Regions from separate parts of the Homo sapiens genome. Here all the other regions are reported to be linked to region 1. Evidence: microRNA targets listed by miRTarBase, many of them from high-throughput screens and not tested one by one. Region 1 holds a microRNA gene; each other region holds the end of a gene's coding sequence.
Evidence for each region. The annotated mature microRNA hsa-miR-6499-3p reads AGCAGUGUUUGUUUUGCCCACA and lies in region 1 at 2,779-2,800, opposite strand. An mRNA with a match to its seed (bases 2 to 7 or 8) in the 3' UTR can be bound and repressed. Matches are read on the target gene's strand: a 7mer-m8 pairs with bases 2 to 8, a 7mer-A1 pairs with bases 2 to 7 and ends in A, and an 8mer does both.

Region 1 (4,131 bases):
CTCCAGCCTGAGTGACAGAGCGAGACTTCATCTCAAAAACAAAAACAAAAATCCAAACAAGTCCAAAATTCCCTGACACTGGCAATTCCATTGTAGTAGGTACTTATTGGATGGGATATTGAAGATGATCTAGATCAGAAATTCCCACCCCGGCTGGATATCAGGATCAGCTGGAGAATCTTTATGACACAGAATCCTAAGTTCTCTCGGAGAATCTGATTCAGTAGTTCTGGGTGGCACGTGGAAATATGTATTTTAAAAATCTTACCATCATGGGTGTAACAACTGGAAGGGGGGCCCAAGGGAGGCTTCTGAGATGGTGGTCATATTCTTTCCTTGATCTGGGCGTTGGCTACACAGATATATTTGCTTTATAAAAATTATTTGAGGTGTGTACTTATGATACATGAATTGGTTTCCTGTATGTTTTATATTTCACTAAAATGTTAAAAAATAAAAAACCTCTTTTCAACTGATTCTGGTGATCCATGAGTTTATCTAGTATTTCTTCAATGCAAGCCCTTGCACCTGCTGCTTCAGAATTAAATGCCAATTCTAGGACTCACTCAGAACCTTCTAAATTAAAACCTCTGGAGGTGACACCCAGGAGCATGTCTCTTTAAAATCACGCTCTCCAGTAGACTTTGCAAAATCTTGAATTTTAGAACCCCTGCTGTCTGATGCCAGGTGGCTGAGAGAGACCCTTCAGCCTTCTTGGCTTTCCCTGAAGCAGGCCCTGGGGCAAGAAACACAGAGAAGGAAATCCTCTCCCCAACAGAGAGAAGCCCACCCAGCCTAAATCGAGTGGTCCCTGGACAAAGTCCACAAATCTTCTGAGAAATGATATCCCGAATGCCAGGCAGCTGGACCCATAAAGGGCAGGTCAGGCCAGGCCAGGCAGGAGCGCTGGTGAGCTGAAGGTCATGTCACTTTCCTTTAGCCAAGGCTCCTGAGCTGCTCCCTTGGCCTTAATGCCAGGGATGCTGGGTGAGTCTTGGAGTGCCTGAGGAGCTTAGTGAAGAGTTCAGGCTTTAGAGTGGGACACACAGATATTTGAATAACGAGGCCTTCATTGGAAGCTGTACAATTTCAGGCAAACTAAATCTCATATCTCAGTTCCAACTGCAGATGGGGCTAATGACCCTGCTTGGTAGGGCTGTGGTGCCGATTAGTTTAGGTGACATCTACACAGAGTGTGGCGTACAGCAGGCTCCCTATAGCAACTGCTACCACGGGAATGACAGTCACCGTTGATCTGGGGCTTATTGTGGGCCAGCCATGGGTTAAGTGCTTTTATAACTCTTACGTAATTTCCCCCCCGAACCCAACTCCAGGAGGCAGATGTATTTATTTTGACTATTTTATAGATGGGAAACTAAAAAGCTCAGAGGGTTTTAACAATACACCCAAAGTTACACAGCTAGTGACTGATGGAGCTAGGGTTTGAACCTGAGCTGTCTGAGTCTAAGCCTTGAGCTTATAACCACCAGACTATGGTAATAATAGTAGCAGTATTAGTAACTCACATGTATTGACCACTTTCTATATGTCAGGCACTGTTCTAAGCAAGCACTTGATACATAGTACTGATGTAATTCCTACAGCAGCCCAGCTCAAAGGCACAGAGAGGTTAATTTTCCTAAAGTCGCCTGGTTAGTAAGGGGTAGAGCTGGGATTTTAACCCATGAAGACTGAAGCCACAGCCTATGCTCTTAGCCATGATGTTAAACCACATATTGTAGTCTTACTGTTATTTTCTAAATCTCGAAAGGGAGCTGAGAATTGGGTATTATTCCATAACTAGATTTTGTGAGGCCACTAGCCGTCTTATGGTGATTGGTGGCCTTTGGGCTTATTAAAACTTCCCTGAACTCTCCCACAGAGCCTCAGTGGAATCTCCATGCTTAGAGTCAGGCGGGCTGAGCCCAGCAGTGCTGCTCGTCCCTAGGGAAGATGTAGTACTTACCATTGCAGGAGCAGCTCCTCTGCAGGTGGTGCCGCGGGGTTAGGATGCTGAGCCTGGCGGTGCTGTACGTGGGCCCAACCTTGGGGTCCAGATGCACTGTGTTATGGCAGATTTGACCCTGGCAGGTTGGCCCCTGGCAGGGCACCATGGGCATAGCTGACCGCATCTGAACCCCCACTGAATGCTCCATCTCCTTGGCTGAGTGAGTGATGATGGATGCTAGCTCCTGAAACTCGTAGAAGGTTCCAGAATGCCCCTCAAAGACCAGGAGCACATCCACACCAGCCACGGCCTCTGCAGGCTGGAGGCTGGCCAAGTGAATGTTAGCCCGTTTGATGTCCAGCTTATGGCTGAGGAACCTCTGCAGGTTCCGCCAGTGGTCACTCACCAGCTCCTCGGGGGTGAGCTGGTAGAAGCCCATCCACATGGCCTGCTGCAGAGCCTCCTGCCCCACATGCCACACGTACACATGGACCCCAGCAGTCGTGGTGAAGGTCCCATCGCTGACCGTGACGTTGAACGAGTAGTGGCCACGAGGCAGGCCCTGGGCGGCGATAATCTTGCCATCAGGCGCACCCACTGAGAAGTGCCTGCCCAGGGTCTCCTCTTCTGCCAGGCTATAGGTCAGCGTGTCCTGGGGGTCTCGGTCTGTGGCATGGATCTTACCCACCATGCCACCCTGGAACTCATCCTCTCCAACAGTGATGAAGATCTCCAGTGGGAGAGCAGAAGGTGCATAGTGGCTCTGCTCTGTGACATGGACACGGACAGACGTCAAAGACGAGAGGGGAGGGATGCCACTGTCTGACGCCTGTGGGCAAAACAAACACTGCTGTCACCCAACAGAACTGCAGTGCTCTTGCGCCCGACTGAGGCTGGGCCTCCTTGTGGAGCTACGTTTCTCTGCCCCACGCCCAACTTGAGGGCTGGCTCAGCGCATTGTTGCATTTAGAAAAAAAAAACCTAACTCCAAAAGCACTGACAGAAAAGAAAGATTTTCTGAAGGTTTTGTAGAGATTGAAGGAGGGAGTTACATCCTATACCATGCAGTAAAACAATGCAGTTTCCTCATGTGACATCTCTCTGAGCCTCTTCCTAAATCTCTCCAGCCATAGACTTGGGCTAACTTCCTCATGAAGTTTCTCATTCTGTCCCTGTCCTCAAGGGCGCCCTCAGATGTCTCAGCAATTCTGATGCACCATGCACCCTGCTCAGCCTACGAAAATTCCCCTTGGGATTCCCTTTTGCTATGCGATTGGAGTGGGAGTCGGGATTTGTCCTTCTAGTCAGTCAACGAAGTCTTCTGCTGTGGCCAGGAGAAAAGAGACAATAAATAAGTTACCAAATAACTTGGATAAAATGCTGGGAAGGAAATAAACAGAGACCTAACTTTGATCAGGTAGAAGAGAAGGAGTCTCTGTGGAGTGACATTTGAGTCCTGAGGGATGAGAAGAAGAGGCGACAGACAGAGGGAGCAGCAAGTGTAAGGTCCTGGGGTAGGAATGAAGGCGGTGTGTTCAACAGCACAGACGGGGTCACTGGTGCTGGAGCAAGTGGGCAGGGAAGCAGGCCTGACCTCACTGATGGGCTGGCACGCGCAGGGTTGCAGTTAATGTCAGAACTGTGAAAAGCCGTGAGGGTGACAGGACCTCACTTAAGTAGGGAAAAGAATGTAAATCATAAACGCATTTTCCTTTCATGTTTCACCACACATCCCTGCAACTTCCTGCCTGACTTAGAAAGGACAGGCTTGCCTTCTTCTCCTCAGTGATGTTATCACTTCCTCAGCTGTCAACGAGGGTCTCCACAATTTTCCCTGTAGTAATATCTTGTTCACCTGCACTCCAACACTTTTAATGTACAAGAAAGTTGATAAGATTACACCTACTGCTGGAAGTCATGCATAACACCGAAGAGATATTAATAGCAACAATAATAATTAACACTACTGTTAATTATAATGTATAGCTAACATTAGTTACAACAATACTACTACTACCGATTATATATAATACATAGCTAACATTAACTGAGTACAATGCTAGTCATTATCATAGATAAACTATGATAATGCTGTAAATACATTATCCTAGTTTATCCTTCTTATGAGATAGGTACTATCAAGTCACCCATCCTACAAAAAATATAACTGAGGCTCAAAGAGG
Region 2 (4,000 bases), not on the chromosome of region 1:
TTCTCTTTCCATCGTAGAAGAACTTACGGGAACTTAATCATGACATTTAGTCATAACACAAACATTATACTATGCCTTTGAATCTAAAACCAGGGTGTACATCCCAAATTTGGGTACTTTTATGAAAGGCTTTATCCTACCTTTCAGCAATTGTCAACCATGCTTCATTTTTTTTTTTTTTTTTTTTTTAGGTAAAAGATAACCCATGCCACCTGCCCAGGTCTTATAGAGTCTCATATTCTCCACTGCTAAGTGTTTAATTTGCAGTAGGACTCTGATTCAGAATAACGTGCAGCTGACTCTTGAGCAACAGGAGCTTGAACTACACAGGTCCACTTATCCACAGATTTTCTTCCGTCTCTGCCACCACTGAGACAGCAAGACCAACCCTCCCTTTCCCCCTCAGCCTGCTCAATGTGAAGATGACAACCAGGATGAAGGCCTTTATGATGATCCACTTCTTTAATGAATTGTAAATATAGTTTATCTTATGATTTGCTTCCTTTTTTTTGAGACACAGTCTCGCTCTGTTGCCCAGGCTGGAGTGCAGTGGTGCCATCTCAGCTCACTGCAACCTCCGCCTCCCAGGTTCAAGCGTTTCTCCTGCCTCAGCCTCCCAAGTAGCTGGGATTACAGGTGCATGCCACCATACCCAGCTAATTTTTGTATTTTTAGTACAGATGGGGTTTCACCATGTTGGCCAGGTTGGTCTCAAACTGCTGAACTCAAGTGATCCACCCGCCTTGACCTCCCAAAGTGCTGGGATTGCAGGTGTGAACCACTGCATATGGCCATATAATTTTCTTAAGAACATTTTTTCTTTAGCTTACTTTAATATAGTATATAATACAAATAACATACAAAATATGTTAACCAACTTTCTGTTATTGGTAAGGCCTCCTGTCAGTAATAGTAAAGTTTTTGAGGAATCAAAAGTTATGTGCAGATTGTGCAGTGGGCTGGCTCCCCTAAGCCCCAAGTTGTTCAAGGGTCAACTGTACTCCCCTCCAATGCACATAAGATGGACACTTATGAAATGGAGCCAATGCCTGCCCTGCCTCCCTTGTGAGGCTATTCGGTATAGATACCCTGATGATTGTTTCTCTTTCTTGGCAGTAGAAAGAACATGGGCCTTGCAGAAAGACAAGAATTCTGGCCTAATCGCTCACTACACTTACTACAGAGGATAGAATTCTGGCCCAAGGATGTTTCACCTTGACCAAATTTCTTTTTTTTTTTTTTTTTTGAGACGGAGTCTCGCTTTGCCCAGGCTGGAGTGCAGTGGCACTATCTTGGCTCACTGTAACCTCCGCCTCCTGGGTTCAAGTGATTCTTTTGCCTCAGCCTCCTGAGTAGCTGGGACTACAGGCACCCGCCACCACGCCCAGCTAATTTTTTGTGTTTTCAGTAGAGACGGGGTTTCACCGTTAGCCAGGATGGTCTCTATCTCCTGACCTCGTGATCCGCCCGCCTCGGCCTCCCAAAGTGCAGGGATTACAGGCATGAGCCACTGCGCCCAGCCCTTGACCAAATTTCTAACCTTTTGTGCCCATTTCCACAAGTGTGAAACTGAGTTTTCCTATACCGCAGGAATTTTTTAAATTAATTATTATTTTTTTTTAGACAGGGTCTTGCTCTGTCACCCGGTTGGAGTGCAGTGGTATGATCATGGCTTGCTGCAGCCTTGACTTCCTGGCCTCAGGCAGTCCTCCAGCTTCAGCCTCCTGAGTAGCAGGGTCTGCAGGCGCACACCACCATGCCTGGCTAGTTTTTAAAAATGTTTTGTACTTACTATGTTGCCCAGGCTGGTCTCGAACTCCTGGGTTCAAGCGATCTTCCTGCCTCAGCCTCTCAAAGTGCTAAGATTATACTGCTCAACCTTTTTTCAAGAGGATTAAATGGGAAAGTACATGGAGAAACTTTTAGTCCAATCTTCCAAGCAGCAGCATGCAATGTTCATTTCTTTCCTTCTCCTTCCAAATTTGACACACTGATACATCTGCACTACTCGCACTAATTTGTGCACTGTCTTGTTTCATCCCATTGTTTTACTGCTTCGGTAGAAGGTCCCTTCACTTAGAAAACAATTTCCTACCCCTGAGCACCAAGAGGAAAGAGTCCAAGGAACTAAGTCTGTGTAGGTTCAGTGGTTTGCAGATTCATGCTTTGGGAACTCTTTATTCAAATGAAATCTCTCTTGGAACCGTGATATAAACAAAACAGACAAAGTCATTTTATTAGCATTCCTTTATTTTAGAAGTTCACACCTATAATTTTATAACAATCGTGAAAATGTTACTCAGAACTAGATGTTTTGATGACACATAGCAGAAATCTGTGGTTCAAGATGGTCATTGCAAACTTAACCAATCTCAGCATTCTATTCTGCCTTTTGTTTTGATTGCACAGAATCAATATAATTCTGATTCATATGGAAAATAACTTAATATCTTAACCTCCGCTCAGGATCTTCATCATAAATGTAGGTCAGTACATACCTAAAAATTGTCAATGATCCAACATGGTCACATGTGACATGCTACACTTGCACCTAGTACCAAACAAGCTGATACTTCAATGAGATCTGGTTGGCATATACACCCAAGCCTTGTCTGTCCCCTCAGAGCACTGCACACAGATAGTGAAAGAACTTGTGTACAATAAGAAATTCACAGGGATGAGGCTGGGCGCAGTGTCTCACGCCTGTAATCCCAGCACTTTCAGAGGCCGAAGCAGGTGGATCACTTGAGGTCAGGAGTTCGAAACTAGCCTGGCCAACATGGTGAAACCCCGTCTCTACTGATAATGCAAAACTTAGCTGGGCGTGGTGGCACATGCCTGTAGTCCCAGCTACTCGGGCAACTGAGGCAGGAGAATAGCTTAAACCTGGAAGGCGGAGGATGCAGTGAGCCAAGATCACGCCACTGCACTCCAGCCTGGGTGACAGAGCGAGACTCTGTCTCAACAACAACAACAAAGATATTCACAAGGATGAATTTAAATAGGTAAATGGCAGTGTAGAACTACATCCTTCCTAGTCAATTACACCTTTAGGAGACTTTAAATAGGCACAGAAACGACAAAGGGCTTATACTGAGAATTGCACAAAAATGAGTTACTTGGCAGCACAAGGTAGGGATTGTATGTGTCACAAGAGTATATAGACTGTTCTACCTTCATGCTCTACTCATTGCCATATCCCTTCGTGGTTCCCTGAGACTCAGGTGAAATTACCTTCCAATATTGCCTGGAGAAGGGCCTCCTCCTCCTCAGCTGCCTCATAATCCTTTATTAGTACCAATAACTGCAAGAAACCAGGGGCTGGGCCATCCTCTGGCAGATTAAGCTCTCTGCGAATTGTTTTGTGGACTGCCCCAGCAATGACTTGGTCTAGGCGGGCCTGATTCACAGCATCTCTCTCAATTGCTCCTCTCTGTACCAGCTTCTGTAACAAAGGCTCCAGCCTTAGTACATAAGCCGACAACTTTTCCTCATCCTTCTGGTAAGTGGTTAGATATTTGACCTGCAACTCCCTAGGATTATCTGTAACCCCAAATACCTCCTCAAGAGCCTGCAGACATTCATCGACAGTAATTAAAGGATTGTTTATCTTGAGGACACGAATAACATCAAGTGCTGGGCCTCGAAGGCTCTCTAGCAATCGCCTTCTCTTCTCTACATCTGGCACCTGCCACGCCTTTATCATCTGAGTAGTATGAAACATCCAGCGTCCAAATTCTTCTTCTCCTGGTTCTGGAGACTCCCTGCCCGAGAACACTCTCAGCTTTTTATACTTCAAGCATTGCAGGGCAGGCTGAAGAGCCTCTAATGCCTGTGCCAACATAGGGGCCCACATTTCCGGGATCATGCCCTGCTCTGGGTCTAAGGAGCCATTTTCATGTCCAAGAGCTCTGCTCAACTCACCCACTGTCATGCCCTCTCCCGCTAAAAATTCATTTAATCTGCTTAAAAATGTATTATCTGGGTCAGGGGGCTTAAA
Region 3 (4,000 bases), not on the chromosome of region 1:
AATGCCACCGTGTTGAACACACTGGGGCAGGCTGTGGTTGACAGCTGCAGGCTTCTGCCAGCCTAGCATCCAAATTACTTCCTTATTGTGTTTCCTTGCTCAGTGTCAAACAATCCTGTCACAAAGATAAGAATTAGCAGATAGTAGAAGTTTTATAAGAGCCCATCATGCAGTACTGCAACAGCCTTCTATTAAAGTGAAAACAGGAGTGATAGGAATATATTTCGAAGTTGAATTTCTAACGATATCTGGCTGCAGGTGGGGAGGGTCATGTTGTTTTTAATTGCAAATACAGAAGTCAGACAAGAAGCACCAAGAACTTAAAATAAGCACTAACCCAGGCAAGCAATCTGTTGTATGGAATCAAAGAAAAATCAAGATCAGACATCTGAAATCTGTGAAGCACCGGTTTCGACCTCGGGGATTCCTCAGAAGAAGTTTGAGAAATCCTGCCCTTGATGCCTGCTTCCCTTCAGTGCTAAGCCAGCTCCTGGTCACTGCCCTCCTGGCTCCAGCAGAGGTCATGCCCCTTCTCGGTCCTCCCTTGGCACTCTCTGGAAAGTTCCACTGGGACACTGCCCAGACCTCGCATTAGACAGGAATGATGTTTACCCACTTATCTTGCCTCCCACAGGCGGGCGATGGTCTCACCTAGCGTGACCCTCAGGTGCCTCTGCTGAGCTGCCACAGGGTCCTGAATGTGTCCATTGAGGGCATCGGGGGCCTCAGATCCGAGTAAACCCTTGCTTAACTCTCAGCCGCCAACTGGAGGAGCCAAGCAACAGGGTATGGGAAATTAAGAACCATCTCAGCCAGGTGCAGGGGCTCATGCCTGTAATCCCAGCACTTTGGGAGGCCGAGGCGGGCAGATCACGAGGTCAAGAGATTGAGACCATCCTGGCCAACATGGTGAAACCCCGTCTCTACTAAAAATACAAAAATTAGCTGGGTGTGGTGGTGGGCGCCTGTAATCCCAGCTACTTGGGAGGCTGAGGCAGGAGAATCACTTGAACCTGGGAGGCGGAGGTTGCAGTGGGCTGAGATCGTGCCACTGCACTGCACTCCAGCCTGGCGAGAGAGAGAGACTCCGTCTCAAAAAAAAAAAAAAAAAGAAAGAACCGTCACAAGCCATATGCACATCTGCCCCACTTCCCTAAAGCACTGAGTCTGTTTTGGGCACCTTGCTTTGGGAAGTGCTGACTGCAATGATAATGACAGTGATGATAATAATGGCAGCTAAAACATGCTTATTATTTCAGGATTTCACAGGCACTTTGCTCAGCACTTAATCCTCATACCAACCCTATAAAGTATGTATTAATATTTTCCTTCCCACTCTGCATATGAGGGAAATGAGGCTTTAGAAAGGTCATCTTGCCCAAGTTCACATGGTTAGCTAAGTAGCAGAGCGGGGGCTGGAACCCAGATCTTGAACCCAAAACATCTAGGAGATGTGCCATGACATGCCAACAAGGCCTCCTTGAGCCAGGGAGACGCGGCAGCTTTCTGGACTTTTCAAGCAGGTGGAGCAGGTGGAGTGACTATGTGAAGAGGAATGGAGGGAAGTGGAGGCCCTGTGGAGGCCGTCCTCAACCCTGGCCGCCGACAGCCAACACAGCAGCTAGGAGGAACATCTTTGTAGCAAGAAAAAGAATGCACAGATCATGATCATCCACTGGGGAAAGAGTAAGCTCACTTTAACTCAGATTCCTGGACGTGCTCGGGGCCCAGGCCCTCTGATTGAGAAACACTGCCCCATGCCGGCCACCCAAGAGGTCACCCACATGCCAGGTACTGTGAGTGCACTTGGGGCACAAGTGCGAAGAGAAAGGCGGGACCCCCACCCTCCCGAGTTGAGCCTACTTGGGGCCAACCTACGCTGGGTCTCCTGGTCCCTCTCCTTGGTGGCAGAAATAGGTTTCCAACAGGCTCCAGTTTTGGCAAGACCTGCCTGTCCTGCCTGGTGGGCAGCTGGAACCTAGGGGCACAGGCTAGCGGTCATCACAATCACACAGCTCAGCACCAAAGAAAGCTGTCTCTACTTAGGGTTTGTCTCCCTCTGAATTTACTGACCACTCCTGCTTCCAAAAGAGCCTTGTGCAATGTGAAACTCTTTGGAGAAGTTGCTGAAGAAGAGCTATGAAGATGCCCTCATTGAATCCACTGTGCTTCCAGAATTAGAGACGGGAAGTAAGATAGACGGACTTCCCATGTGTCATTTAAATGTTATTTCTAACATATATTTTGGGAGTGACTGTCTTCTGATTATGCTCAATTGTGGGCTGAAGTGGGTGGCTCCATCTTTATTGCAAAGGCCGGGCCATGGGGTTGGCAGCAGCTGGAGGAGATGCTTCTTCCCCTGTCCTCAGCCAGAGCCTTCTCTGTCCCTGGCTTGGGTGGCTTGGGCGAGTCCTGTTCAGCCAGGACTACCCTGCAGATGGTTGTATGTGTCTGAGAGGTGGGCAAAGGCAGCCTGGGTCAGCCCACTCCAGGACACTCCCTGCCAGCCCCGGAGTGGACCAGGCTGCAGAACCCCACATCCCTGTCCCGGACAGAGTCAGCCCAGGGCAGGATTCTTGGCCACTGTGGTCTGGCTTGAGTGCCTTGGTTGTTAGGGGCTGGTAGTACAGCTAGCCCTGCTGCTGGGTGGCGTTGCTTCAGTAGAAGGGGATTCTGAAGGAGAATGGTCAGTGTTTATAAGACTGAAGCTGGAACAGAGCACAGAGAGAAGTCTCCCTTAATGCACGATTTTGAGACAATTCCCTGGCTTACAGACCAGGTCCAACTCCTCATTCTTTCAGGCGTTGGTCATCTAGCTACAACCTACTTTTCCAGCCTTGACCACAAACCCTGTGCCCCAGGCAATCTGGCCCAGCCAGGATACTGCAGACAGGCACGAGCTTTCTGTCTCTGGGCCCTTGCTTGGCTGTTTCCATGAACTCATCATTGACTGCACCCATGGGACCACTTCCTCCTCATCCTTTTGGGGACCCAATAAAAGGTCTGCTCCTTGGCAGTGCTGTTCATGGGTCCCCAGCAGAGTGAGACCCTCCCTCTGCTGCTCTCCTGTGGCCCTGTGCCCCTCCTGTGGCCGTCATCACCTCTTCTTTGTAGTGTCTTATTTACCCTATCAGGCTGGGAAGTCCCTGAAGGGAGACTCCCCATGCTCCCCACCCAGTGCCCAGCACACACTGCTTCTTCACACACAGGCCACTACGCATGCAGTGCACATGACTGGCATGACAGAGATGCTGTGGGCCCTCTCCGTTCTGAAGGCCTTGTTTGCAGAACAGCAGGAGGTCCTCCAGCAAGGTCACCTTAGTGCTCATTGCCTTCTTCCACCAAATCTGAAGGCGGGGGGATGAGGTCTCGGGGATTCATCCTGGCTACTAGGCAGACATCATAGCTGTCATGCATGAGGACGTTGATGGCTACAACATTCCACTGGTTTTCCCATGGGTCCAGTTCCAATATTTCTTTGGAGATAACCTCATGGCGATCTGAAAAACAGCAAAGTGGGAAGACAAAAATCTCATGTGGGTATTAAATTCAGAGGCCATCAGCACCATACTGAGTAACTTCCTCCAAAAGGCAATGTCTTAGTCCACTTGCTGTTACTGTTAACAGAATACCCAGGACTGGGTAGTTTATCAAGAAAAGACATTTACTTGGCTCACGATTCTGGTGGCTGGAGAGTTCAAGACTGGGGATCTGCATCTGGTGGGAGCCTTGGCTGTTTCAACTCATGGCAGAAAATGGAAGGGGAGTGGGCATTTGCAAAGAGGTCACTGGGACAGGGAAGGAGTAAAAGAGAGAAATCAAGAAAGCCAGACTGTTTTTTTTTTGAGACGGAGTCTTGCTCTGTCACCCAGGCTGGAGTGCACTGGTGCAATCTCGCTCACTGCAACCTCCGCCTCCCGGGTTCAAGCAATTCTCCCGCCTCACCCTCCTGAGTAGCTGGGATTACAGGCACATGCCACCATGCCTGGCTAATTTTTGT
Region 4 (4,131 bases), not on the chromosome of region 1:
TGTCTGTTGAGAAATAAACGTTTTACCATCTGTAGACACATGAGGGCGCTTTAAGCAGGCAGCGTGGGATGCAGCGTGCAAAGGGAGGGAGGGAGGAAGAAAGCTTTGTCAAAGGTAGCCTGAAATTCAGGCATCTCCCTATCTGGTTGCGGACCTGTGCCTGCGTCGGGGTGGGGAGCACCGAATCGATTTAGGAAAAGAACTGCGCAGGCCCTTGATCCCCACTTCTCATGGTGAAATCAAGTTTGAGGTTCAAATCAAGGCTTTCAGAGAGTCAGAATTTCCAAATCTGTTACTTTGTCAAAAAACTGCTTTTAATCTGGTAACGTTTCCCATTAACCTCATTTGATGTCCTTCCCTAAGAATGTTTAATTAGAATCTCCTTTTCTGATGCCAGCAGAATTGAACTGCTTGTGAACTGAGCTTTAAATTGGACATGTTGTGTTTCTAGTCCTCCACTGAGGGTGAATTTTGCAGCAATTTGCGTTTAACTTTCTGTGTCTTGCTGCATTAAGCACTTCTAGAATAGGATCAACAGGACAGAGCTGGAGTATGCAGAGATTCTCAAAAGAAATGTAAATTTGGAATGTAATTGGGAACCCAACAGGGAGGTGTGGATTTCACGGATGAAGTCTTGGTGGAAGATCTAAGTGCCACAATGTGAGTTTGAAGTTATTCCATCTTCATAAGGATTAAACTATTTTAACCTCTACTAGGCAAATGTTTAAGAGAATAATCTGACTACTGTGCATTAAGTAGAGAGATTAGAGTTTAAAACACTTTAAATGAATGGCAGAATAGGACTCAGTTCTCTAGGATCACACCAATAGTTCCACCAGACAGATGAAGATATGTAATACAGTGTTTAAGCGGCCTGACATTGGCACTAAAATATTGAAATTACTGTTTCAAAAATGCAAACTAATAAATGCTTACATGCCCAGGGTCTATAAGAAAGGCAAAAACCAGCCAGGCGAGGTGGCTCATGCCTGTAATTCTAACACTTTGGGAGGCCAAAGCAGGAAGATCACTTGAGCTCCGGAGTTCGAGACCAGTCTGGGCACCATAGTGAGACCTCGTTTCTACTAAAAATTTAAAAAGTAGCTGGGACGTTGTGGTGCACACCTGTAGTCCTCGCAACTTGGGAGGCTGAGGATGGCTTGAGCCCAGGAGTTCAAGGCTATAGTGAGCCATGATCATGCACTCCAGCCTAGGTGATAGAGCAAGACCCTGTCTCAAAAACATGCACTCCAGCCTAGGTGATAGAGCAAGACCCTGTCTCAAAAAAAAAAAAAAAAAGGAAAAAATATTGGAAAAAATGTGATCAGGTCTGAGCACTTTTTAGCATTCTTTTGTTTCTTTTCAGTGACATGGGAGTGTTTGCTCTGTGCTCAGGAATGTGTTTGGGCTTTCTTAACCCTAAGGGAGTGAGTCGAGGTCAAGAGTGGTTGGGTTCAACTCTGACAAAGGCAGGTGAACTCCTGACCTGGCAAATTCATTTTTTTCCCTGTTCCAAGAATTACTTGACTCATCTTTAAAGCGGTCACATTTACACTGACATTTTTCAGTGGTGAGCAAAATCTTGCTACATAAAAAACTGTGCAAAATCCTTCCGTCTTGTAATATATGAATTCAGGGCCTCAGATGGGGTAAACAGGGCCTACAGTGCCGAACATTTATCTTTCTTATTTGAACGAACAACTCTTCCTTCCTTCCTGGAATGTGACTTAACGTTAAGAATTTCTATTAAATCTCTGGGTACACCCAGAGACCTCAGAAAGCTCTCTACAGAGAGAGCAAACATCCTCCTGTACTTGGCAAAAGAAGAAACAGATGCTTGCGTGGCTTGCAGGCTCAGCTGCTCAGGGCCGCTCTGTGGAAGAGAACCAGTGAACCTGGGTTGCCAGAAAAAATGTTAATGTTGAGTTGAGAATAAGCATTTGCACTTGTGAGTAGTCAACAGATATGTAGGACATGTGAGTGCAACGGAAGCGGCACCCAAACTGGACTGCCCTGTAGTCAAAGTTAGGGGAACTGGGGCTATTTTGGGTTTGGGCCATTGGGTATCCATTTTCCCTTTCTGAGAAGTACCCCTTCTCCATCTAGCTCAGGAACTCTGGGAAGATGGCCACACCCAGGCTCCAGGGGTGGGCTCTAATTAGTCTATGCAAATTAGTTCATCCCATTCACTTCTCTCCCCCCTTTCATGATTGGTTTAAGAGACAGGCCTACCAGCAATGGTATGCAAGACCTTTGCTGGGATTTCTGAGAAAGACACTTGCTCTGTGTAGAAGCTACTAGGATAACTTCTCTCCTCTGGACAGTGTGGAAAATAGACTTGAGTCTTAAGAGCATGGTGGCCCTTTGCCACAATTCTGAATGCAATGTCAACCCAAGGAGGAAAGGAGAGCTAAGATAATTAAGAGATGGGAGCTGGCCGGGTACGGTGGCTCATGCCTGTAATTCCGGCAGTTTCGGAGGCCAAAGCAGGTGGATCACCTGAGGTCAGGGGTTTGAGACCAGCCTGGACAACATGGTGAAATCCTGTCTGTACTAATAATATAAAAATTAGCAGGGCGTGGTGGCACATGCCTGTAATCCCAGCTACTCGGAAGGCCGGGCAGGAGAATGGCTTGAACCCAGGAGGCGGAGGTTGCAGTGAGCCGAGATCATGCCATTGCACTCCACCTGGGTGACAAAGCAAGACTGTCTCAAAAAAAGAAAAAGAAAAAAGAAAAAAAAAAAAGAGATGGGAGCTGAAATCCTGATCAAATTGGACCAACTGGACTTTTCACTCACTGAACCAATAAATTCTTATTGTTGAAGCTAGGCTCAGCTGAGGTTTGTAGTACTTGCAACCAATGTTTCCAACTGCCCAACTGCCACATGGTGTGTCTAAGATGATCAGGGTGCATATCCATCTATTTGTGTAATCTAATTGAAAGGGCATATATATATTTTCCTGAAAGAGTACTTGTCTCAACAGAAACAGTATTTATTGTACACAGCTTTGCACCACAACCTCTAGTCTCTAAAGTTTTTTTTGAAAGCACTAAACAGTACATTCAATAACTAGGTGGGTATCAATAAAAGAAACTAGCCAGGTGTCAAATGCAGCATATTTTAATTTGTTTCAAATAAAGCAATATATGTATATATATTTTTTCAGAAAAACACCAGATGTTAAATTCTACAAAAGCGCATGTGTCCTCAGCAGATCATGTTTGTCTGATTATTAAGAATTCTTTTTTGTAACATTAACTCTCTAAAGACAATCAATGGACTGACATCACTGCTACAACACAGGTTGCTAACTGAGCCTCTGATCTTCAGCCACATCTTGATTTTCCTAATAATGAGTAAATACTGCCTGGCTAAAATGCTGCAAAGTCTTGATGAGAGAAAGCATCAACAGATCAAGCAAAGCCATGAAAATTATGAAGCAAGCTAGAGCTGATTATTAGAATTAGTAAAAATGATTAAGAGAGGATGACACAACCATACGGGATTTGTATATTCTGATTGACACTCTTTTGGCAGCGAATTGGGTCAGCACCTCGGGCAGGGAACCAAAACTGAGTGAAAACTGCTCTTTTTCCTCCTAGCTCAGGCCACCAACGTCACAGCCGGGACTGAGAGAACTGCTGCATCTGTGGAAACTTCTATTCTCGTGGGGCAGAGATTGCACTGTGAAACCCTACCGACACTACCCCGGAAGGGCCTGGCCTCCGAGGTGTCTGCAGCGTGCTGCCTTCGCCGGGGCTTTTCAGAATGGGCCGGGGCCTCGGGGGTCTTCATCCCCAAGGAAGCCTCTTGATTTTTGGCACCGCCTTTGTTTTTGGGCCGGAAGCCGTTGTGCGGCTGTCTTCTGTGTTCGTGGCGGCTGTTGCCCTTTCCCAGTGGCTCGGCTTCATTCCCACTGCCCTGCGACTTGGCAGGCCCATTTAGCCTGTTGTTATGATACTGTGGATTAAATCTCCGTCTTTGGTTAGAAGATCCATTCTACCAAAAAAGAAAAGAGATAAGTATCAGATGCCAGCAAGCCACTGATGACACCAGTAGACATCAGGAAAACCAAATCTCTAAGCCACAGGTAAGCTTTTTTTTTTTTTTTTTTTTTTTATACACCAG
Region 5 (4,131 bases), not on the chromosome of region 1:
ATGCACCACCACACCCAGCTAATTTTTCGTATTTTTTCTAGAGATAGGATCTCTGTGTTGCCCAGGCTGGTTTTGAACTCCTAGGCTCAAGCGATCCACCCACATTGGCCTCCCCAAGTGCTGGGATTACAGGCAAGGAGCCACTGCACCTGGCTGAAGCAAATGTTAATTACACGTTTCAATTATACAAATGCAAAGGGGAACTCTTAAAACTACTGCCAAAATTCACGACCCAATGTCAGCGCAGTCAGATCACTTGCCTGCATCTCAATGCCTCGCTCAAGTATCTCTTTTAAAACAACAGAATACTGTAATTTGTTAGTTGTCTAGAGTCTGACATAAATTTTTAGAGGAGAAAAACCAAATATAATATATTTATTTTGATTGTTTCCTGAGAGGATCAAGACTGGAAACCACTGCATCCTGGGGATCCCATGTTTTTAACTCTTGATGGGAAGACGATCCCACTGGGCGGAGACTGTACCGTGTACCCCGTGTTTGTGAATGAGGCCGCATATTACGAAAAGAAAGAAGCTTTTGCAAAGACAACTAAACTAACGCTCAATGCAAAAAGTATTCGCTGCTGTTTACATTAGAAATCACTTCCAGCTTACATCTTACACGGTGTCTTACAAATTCTGCTAGTCTGTAAGCTCCTTAAGAGTAGGGTTGTGCCTTATTCAACTGCATACATAGCTCCTAGCACAGTGCCTTATTCGGTAGGCATCTAAGCACATTTCTTAAATTAATTAATATATCTTTAAAGATATCATATTTTATGTATGTAGCTTATTCAAAGAAGTGTTTCCTATTTCTATATAGTTTATTATACATGATACTTGGGTAGCTCAACATTCTTAATAAACAGCCTTTGTATTCAGAATATAAAATTGAAATAGATATATATAAAGTTATTTGTTTTATTGTGCTTTGCCTTACTACACTTCACGGATACTGTACTTGTACTTTTTTTCCAAATTGAAGGTTTTTGGCAACCCTGTGTCTAGAAAGTCTAACAGTGCCATGTTTCCAACAGCATGTGCTCACTCCTTGTCTCTGTGTCACCCTTTGATAATATTTCAAGCTTTTTTATGATTTATTTATTATATCTGCTATGGTGATCTGTGATCAGTGGCCTTTGATGTTACTGTTGTTAAGTGTTTTGGGGCACCATGAATCGTGCCCATGTGAGACTGCGAACTTAGTGAATGTTGTGTGAGTTCTAACTGCTCTACTGACCGGCCATTTCCTTGTCTCTCTCCCTGTCCTCTGGCCTCCCTGTTCCTTGAGACACAATAATTAATAAGTCTACAGCAGACTCTGTGTGTTCAAGTGAAAGAAAGGGTCATACTTCTAGAAATTAAGCTTAGTAAGGAAGGCATGTCAAAAGCTGAGACAGGCTGAAAGCTAGGCCTCTTGCACTGGTTAGCCAAGTTGTGAATTCAAAGAAAAGGATCTTGAAGAAAATTAAAAATTCTACTCCAGTGCACACACACAAATGATAAGAAAGCAAAACAACCTTATTGCTGATATGGAGACAGTTTTAGTGGTCTGGATAGAAGATCAAACCAGCCACACATTAAGCCAAAGCATGACCCACAGCAAGGCCCTAACTCTCTTCAATTCTGTGAAGGCTGAGAGAGGTGAGGAAGCTGCAGGAAGCTGGGAGAGGTTGGTTCACAAGGTTTAAGGAAAGAAGACAGCTCTAAAACCTACAAGTGGAAAGCGAACCAGCAAGTTGCTGATGTGGAAGCTGTAGCAAGTTATCCAGAAGATGTAGCTAAAATCATTGACAAAGATGGCTACACTAAACAACGGATCTTCAGTGTAGTTGAAACAGCCTTCTATTGGAAGAAGATGCTATCTAGGACTTTCCTAGCTAGAGGGGAGAAATGAATGCCTAGCTTCAAAGCTTCAAAGGACAGCCTGACTCTCTTAAGAGCTAACACAGCTGGTGACTTTGGGTTAAAGCCAAAGCTCATTAACTGTTTCAAAAATCCTAAAACTCTTGTTTTTTGTTTTTTTTTTGAGACGGAGTCTTGCTCTGTCGTCCAGGCTGGAGTGCAGTGGCGCAATCTCGGCTCACTGCAAGCTCCGCCTCCCAGGTTCATGCCATTCTCCTGCCTCAGCCTCCCCAGTAGCTGAGATTACAGGTGCCTGCCACCACGCCCGGCTAATTTTTTGCATTTTTTTAGTAGAGATGGGGTTTCACTCTGCTAGCCAGGATGGTCTCGATCTCCTGACCTCATGATCCGCCTGCCTCGGCCTCCCAAAGTGCTGGGATTACAGGCATGAGCCACCACGCCCGGCCCAAAAATCGTAGGACTCTGAAGACTGATGCTAAACCTGCTGTGTCTGAGCTCTATAAATGGAACAACAAAGCCTCGCTGGCAGCACATCTGTTTGCGGCATGGTTTACTGTATATTTTAAGCCCACTGTTGAGACCTACTGCTTGGGAAAAAAAAAAATTCCTTTCAAAATACTACTGCTGATTGACAATACACCATGTTACCCAAGAGCTCTGCTGGAGATGTGCGAAGAGATTAGCATTGTTTTCGCGCCTGCTACCACGACATCCAGCCGAAGCCCATGGATCAAGGCGTCATTGTGACTTTCAAATCTAACTATTTAAGAAATACATTTCAGGCTGGGGGAGGGGAGAAAAAAGAAAAAAAAGAAAGGAAGAAAAAAATCATTTCATAAGGCTATAGCTGCCATAGATAGTGATTCCTCTGATGGAGCTGGGCAAAGTAAACAGAAAACCTCTGGAAAGGATTCAGCATTCCAGATGCCATTAAGAACATTCAGGATCCGTGGGAGGAGATCAAAATATCAACATTAACAGGAGTTTGGAAAAAGTGAATTCCAACCCTCTTGGATGACTCTGAGGAATTCGAGACTTGAGTAAAGGAAGTCATGCAGATGTACAGCAAGAGAATGAGAAGTGGAGCCTGAAGATGTAACTGAACTGCTGCAATCTCATGATCACACTTGAATGGATGAGGAGTCGCTTCTTATAAATGAGCAAAAAAGTGGTTTCTTGGCTGCAATCAACTCTTGTTGCAGATGCTGTGAACACTGTTGAAATGACAAAGGATTTAGAATATTACGTAAACATAGTTGATAAAGCAGCAGCAGGGTTTAAGAGGATTGACTCCTATTTTGAAATGAGTTCGGCTGGGAGAAGTGGCTCATGCCTGTCGTCCTAGCACTTTGGGAGGCCAAGGCAGACAGAGCACCTGAGGTAAGGAGTTCGAGACCAGCCTGGCCAACATGGTGAAACCCCCTCTCTACTAAAAATACCAACATATTAGCCAGGCGTGGTGGCACGTGCCTGTAGTCCCAGCTACTTGGGAGGCTGAGGCAGAAGGATCACTTGAACCCAGGAGGCAGAGGTTGCAGTAAGCCAAGACTGCGCCACTGCACTCCAGCCTGGTGGACACAGCAAGCCTCCATCTCAAAAAAAAAAAAAAAAAAAAAATGAGTTCTACTGTGAATAAAATGTTATTAAACAGCATTTCATGCTACAGAGAAATCTTTCACGAAAGGAAGAGTCAATCAATGCAGCGAACTTGTTGTTTTATTTTAAGAAATTGTCACGGCCATCCCAACCCTCAGTGCCCAACCACCCTGATCAGGCAGCCATCATCAAGGCAAGGCCCTCCACCAGCAAAAAGATCATGAATTGCTGAAAGCTCAAATGATGGTTAGCTTTTTTAGCAATAAAGCATTTTTAATGAAGGAATGTACATGTTTTAGATATAATGCTATTACACATTTAACATACTACATATAGTGTGAGCATAACTTTTACACGTACTGGAAAATCAAAAAATATGTGTGGCTCATCTGTTATAATGTTTGTTTTATTGTGGTGATCTGGAGCCAAGGCTGAAATATCTCTGAGGTATGCCTGTAATGTATAAGTGCTAGTAGAAATGAGTTGTGCAGAATTGCTATTTTTTTCAATTTTTATATTTGGGTTAATGGTAATATACTAAGCGTCCAGTCTATAAACTTCAGCATTCGTTGCGAAATCCAGAGGAGACTTTTAAGTGCTGTTTTGTAGATGAAATATGAAAGAGAAACAAGGGCTTAATGGTAAAGATGACATATGACTATATTAAGAA
Region 6 (4,131 bases), not on the chromosome of region 1:
ATGTAAATCTCGAAAATTAAAGCACAGAACGCGGAGGGGGCCTGGGGCTGACAGCTTCGGGCAGGGGGAGTGGCTTGCCCCCCCCCCCCCCCGTGGTGAGGGGCGCAGAGCCAGGTGTATGTAACAGCCACTTCCCTCACCCCACTTTTCAGATCCAGGAGATGGAGGCCGGGGTGGAAGTCTCGGAGGAGGGTGGATGGGGAAGGCGGGGCCTTAGGGACCCCTCACCTAACGCGTGCCCCCGACCCCACCGCAGGGACTCGCAAGAAGCTGCGCCTGTACCAGTTCCTGCTGGGGCTACTGACGCGCGGGGACATGCGTGAGTGCGTGTGGTGGGTGGAGCCAGGCGCCGGCGTCTTCCAGTTCTCCTCCAAGCACAAGGAACTCCTGGCGCGCCGCTGGGGCCAGCAGAAGGGGAACCGCAAGCGCATGACCTACCAGAAGCTGGCGCGCGCCCTCCGAAACTACGCCAAGACCGGCGAGATCCGCAAGGTCAAGCGCAAGCTCACCTACCAGTTCGACAGCGCGCTGCTGCCTGCAGTCCGCCGGGCCTGAGCACACCCGAGGCTCCCACCTGCGGAGCCGCTGGGGGACCTCACGTCCCAGCCAGGATCCCCCTGGAAGAAAAAGGGCGTCCCCACACTCTAGGTGATAGGACTTACGCATCCCCACCTTTTGGGGTAAGGGGAGTGCTGCCCTGCCATAATCCCCAAGCCCAGCCCGGGCCTGTCTGGGATTCCCCACTTGTGCCTGGGGTCCTCTGGGATTTCTTTGTCATGTACAGACTCCCTGGGATCCTCATGTTTTGGGTGACAGGACCTATGGACCACTATACTCGGGGAGGCAGGGTAGCAGTTCTTCCAGAATCCCAAGAGCTTCTCTGGGATTTTCTTGTGATATCTGATTCCCCAGTGAGGCCTGGGACGTTTTTAAGATCGCTGTGTGTCTGTAAACCCTGAATCTCATCTGGGGTGGGGGCCCTGCTGGCAACCCTGAGCCCTGTCCAAGGTTCCCTCTTGTCAGATCTGAGATTTCCTAGTTATGTCTGGGGCCCTCTGGGAGCTGTTATCATCTCAGATCTCTTCGCCCATCTATGGCTGTGTTGTCACATCTGTCCCCTCATTTTTGAGATCCCCCAATTCTCTGGAACTATTCTGCTGCCCCTTTTTATGTGTCTGGAGTTCCCCAATCACATCTAGGGCTCCTCCAAGATCCTTTTGTCATGTCTGAAATCACTCTTGAGAGGTCTGGGGTGGAGGATGGGGAGTCAGTGAAATGTGTCATGTCTGGGCCCTGTCAGGGACACCCTTGTTATATCTGGGATCCTCCAATCACATCTGAGACCTCCTAGGCTCTCCATCTGATATGCCCTTTCAGGGACCCCACAAAGACTGAGTTCTCATGGGGATCCTACCCTTCCTAGTGCCACTCCCTATGGCCATGCTGAAGACCACTCTGGCCACGCGACTGATTTTGGGTGATCATGGCAGCTCCCCACCCATGTCATTTCTAACCAGAAGTCTCAAGGTCGTCACCCCCCTGCCCCCCAACCGAGGCCCCGGTCGCTGGTGGTGGTCTCTTTAGTGCACTGTAGCACTTGGTGGTGGAGGTGTGAGGGATCCACATTAACAGCAGGCCATCAGCTGGGCAATGGCTCACACCTGTAATCCCAGCACTTTGGGAGGCGAGGCAGGGGGAATGGCTTGAACCCAGGCATTCAAGACCAGCCTGGGCAACATAATGAGACCTCGTCTCTACAAAACATAACAAAAACAATTAGCCGAGCGTGGGGGTGAACACCTGTGGTCCCAGCTGCTCAGGAGGCTGAGGTGGGAGGATCTCTTGAGCCCAGGAAGTAGGAGGCTGTAGTGAGCTGTAATCGTGCCACTGCACTCCAGCCTGGGCGACAGAGTGAGACACCGTCTTAAAAACAAAAACAAGGCCGGGCACGGTGGCTCATGCCTGTTGTCCCAGCACTTTGGGAGGCCGAGGCAGGCGGATCACGAGGTCGAGAGATCGAGACCATCCTGGCCAACATGGTGAAACCCTGTCTCTACTAAAAATACAGAAATTAGCTGGGCGTGGTGGCACGTGCCTGTAGTCCCAGCTACTCGGGAGGCTGAGGCAAGAGAATCGCTTGAACGTGGGAGGCAGAGGTTGCAGTGAGCCTAGATTGTGCCACTGCACTCCAGCCTGGGGGACAGAGCGAGACTCCGTCTGAAAATAAAAACAACAAAAACAGCAGACCATTCAAAATAGGGAGACTTTGCATAATCCAGATTTCTGCCTTCACTTAAAACTTTGGACGGTCTGGAGAGAGTCGGCCAGTTTTCGGTGGGGGGTGGGGAGCTGGAACAGGACAGTAGCCTTTCCTAATGAGGCATTTGTTCTCCAATCTGCCCCAGTCGCTGCCATCCCTGGCTATCTCACCCTAGCAGCTTCTCAAGCCTGTTGGCTTTAGACCACTGTATAAACCCAGCTGGAACTGAAGCCTGGGTGGACTATGGAGCCCTGGTTGGGACCCCCAGGGAGTCAAAGGCTGCGGGCCAAGAGGCCAGAGGTCCTTGAGCCTGGGTGGGCAGGTGGATCTAGGGTGCATGACTTGCTGCTTCCCAACCTTAGTTTGTCCCTTCTGTGAAAAAGGGAGAGAAGGAGGAGGAAGATCTCAAAAAGACTTTCCAGCCCAGTGCGGTGGCTCACGCCTGTAATCCCAGCACTTTGGGAGGCCGATGCAGGTGGATCACCTGAGGTAGGAGTTCAAGACCAGCCTGACCAACATAGTGAAGCCCCTTCTCTACTAAAAATACAAAATTAGCTGGGCGTGGTGGCATGTGCCTGTACTCCCAGCTACTTGGGAGGCTGAGGCAGGAGAATCGCTTGAACCTGGGAGGCGGAGGTTGTAGTGAGCTGAGATCACACCACTGCACACCAGCCTGGGCGACAAGAGCGAAACTCCGTCTCAAAAAAAAAAAACTGTTGCAGCCCCGTTGAGCCTTTGACACCGCCTGAAATCCACCCCACTCCCAGGAGGAGGAGGAGGAAGGAATGCCAATGACCTAGAGACACGAGAAGTCCATGTGGAGGCACACAGCAGCTGATGGCAGAGCCCAGGCTGGGACCTGCCCTTAAGAGAATGAGTGGGAAGGGGGAGGGAGGAAGGGCAGGTAAAACGTCCTCCCCAGGGCCCCCTGCAACGGGGAAGGTACTTTTTACAAAAGCTATCATTGTCACCCTAAATGTGGAATAAAATAAGATGCATCGACGTAGACAAACCTCCTGGGACCTTTTGTCAGGGACTGCAATCCTGCCCCTCCACTGAGGCCGCTGGCTCTCAGAGACACCGTGACATCACGGGTGATGATGAGAGGAGTTCAAAGAGAGAATTATATGCTGGCGCGGTGGCTCTGTAATCCCAACACTTTGGGGGGCCAAGGCAGGAGGATCGCTTGAGTACAGGAGTTTGAAACCAGCCTGGGCAAGATAGTGAGATCCCCTTCCCACCCGTCTACAAAAAAAATAAAAAATTAGCGGGGTGTGGTGGCGTATGCCTGTAATTCCAGCTACTCCGAACTACTGAGGTGGGAGGGTCACTTGAGCACAGGAAGTTGAGGCTGCAGTGAGCCGTGATCGTGCCCCTGCACTCCAGACACGGCGAGACCCTGTCTCAAAAACAAACAAACAAATCACAAAGACACCATACAGCAAAACCTATCTGAACCTTAATGCCGAGAAATAAGAGGCTTGACGCGCAGGCACAGAGGGTTCCGTTTATGTCTTCCTCTATTCCTGCCAACTGAAGTTCTCCACCTCCTCCCCGCTTCCCCTTCCGTCTGGGTGTCTGTCCCCTTCCCTCTGAATTGAGCCCTCGGGCTGGCAGCGAGGGACGCGAGGCTTCAGGTGGCCGCGGCACTGCAGGCCTGGGCCCCTCCCCAACTTAGCGGGGCTCGCGGGAGCGCAGTGGCAGTCTGCCTGGCAACCCGTGACATCACATGGAACTGACGCCGGATTGGCTGGACGCTCCCCGGAGGCGGAGAAATTTCCGGCTCGTAGGGGGTTTTGGAAAAGGAGGAGGGGGAAGATGAACAGGAAAAAAAAGCGGAGGGACTTGTTTTCCTCACACCGGGTCCCTCA

Region 2: the mRNA of MOAP1 is a reported target of hsa-miR-6499-3p. Seed matches in the 3' UTR shown: 7mer-m8 at 3,013-3,019, 7mer-A1 at 2,902-2,908 and 7mer-m8 at 2,690-2,696.
Region 3: miRTarBase lists KBTBD12 as a target of hsa-miR-6499-3p. Seed matches in the 3' UTR shown: 7mer-A1 at 3,221-3,227 and 7mer-A1 at 1,029-1,035.
Region 4: the mRNA of SPATS2L is a reported target of hsa-miR-6499-3p. Seed matches in the 3' UTR shown: 7mer-A1 at 2,655-2,661.
Region 5: miRTarBase lists ASPA as a target of hsa-miR-6499-3p. Seed matches in the 3' UTR shown: 7mer-A1 at 2,084-2,090 and 7mer-A1 at 3,420-3,426.
Region 6: the mRNA of SPIB is a reported target of hsa-miR-6499-3p. Seed matches in the 3' UTR shown: 7mer-A1 at 1,886-1,892, 7mer-A1 at 2,180-2,186 and 7mer-A1 at 2,920-2,926.

The regions. Positions count from the first base shown.
Region 1 is chr5:151,519,310-151,523,440 of GRCh38, forward strand. It overlaps MIR6499 (microRNA 6499), which reads right to left and starts at 2,839; the gene lies at 2,778-2,839. It overlaps FAT2 (FAT atypical cadherin 2), which reads right to left. Exons shown (of 24, transcript NM_001447.3): 19 at 1,967-2,777. It also overlaps a transcript of SLC36A1 not described here. RefSeq lists enhancers at 820-989, 2,675-2,844.
Region 2 is chr14:93,179,967-93,183,966 of GRCh38, forward strand. It overlaps MOAP1 (modulator of apoptosis 1), which reads right to left. Exons shown (of 3, transcript NM_022151.5): 3 at 2,233-4,000. The coding sequence ends at 3,221. Among named protein-coding and RNA genes, the nearest start is that of MOAP1, 2.9 kb to the right of the region's middle.
Region 3 is chr3:127,983,597-127,987,596 of GRCh38, reverse strand. It overlaps KBTBD12 (kelch repeat and BTB domain containing 12), which reads right to left. Exons shown (of 6, transcript NM_207335.4): 6 at 1-3,500. The coding sequence ends at 3,319. Among named protein-coding and RNA genes, the nearest start is that of SEC61A1, 67 kb to the left of the region's middle.
Region 4 is chr2:200,477,507-200,481,637 of GRCh38, reverse strand. SPATS2L (spermatogenesis associated serine rich 2 like) reads right to left here. Exons shown (of 13, transcript NM_001100423.2): 13 at 1-4,002. The coding sequence ends at 3,607. It overlaps LOC101927741 (a long non-coding RNA gene), which reads left to right and starts at 3,665. Exons shown (of 7, transcript XR_007088047.1): 1 at 3,665-4,093.
Region 5 is chr17:3,498,493-3,502,623 of GRCh38, forward strand. It overlaps ASPA (aspartoacylase), which reads left to right. Exons shown (of 6, transcript NM_000049.4): 6 at 399-4,131. The coding sequence ends at 596. It also overlaps a transcript of SPATA22 not described here. Among named protein-coding and RNA genes, the nearest start is that of ASPA, 25 kb to the left of the region's middle.
Region 6 is chr19:50,427,782-50,431,912 of GRCh38, forward strand. SPIB (Spi-B transcription factor) reads left to right here. Exons shown (of 6, transcript NM_003121.5): 6 at 257-3,533. The coding sequence ends at 555. Among named protein-coding and RNA genes, the nearest start is that of MYBPC2, 3.0 kb to the right of the region's middle. RefSeq lists enhancers at 1-449, 450-1,022, 578-867.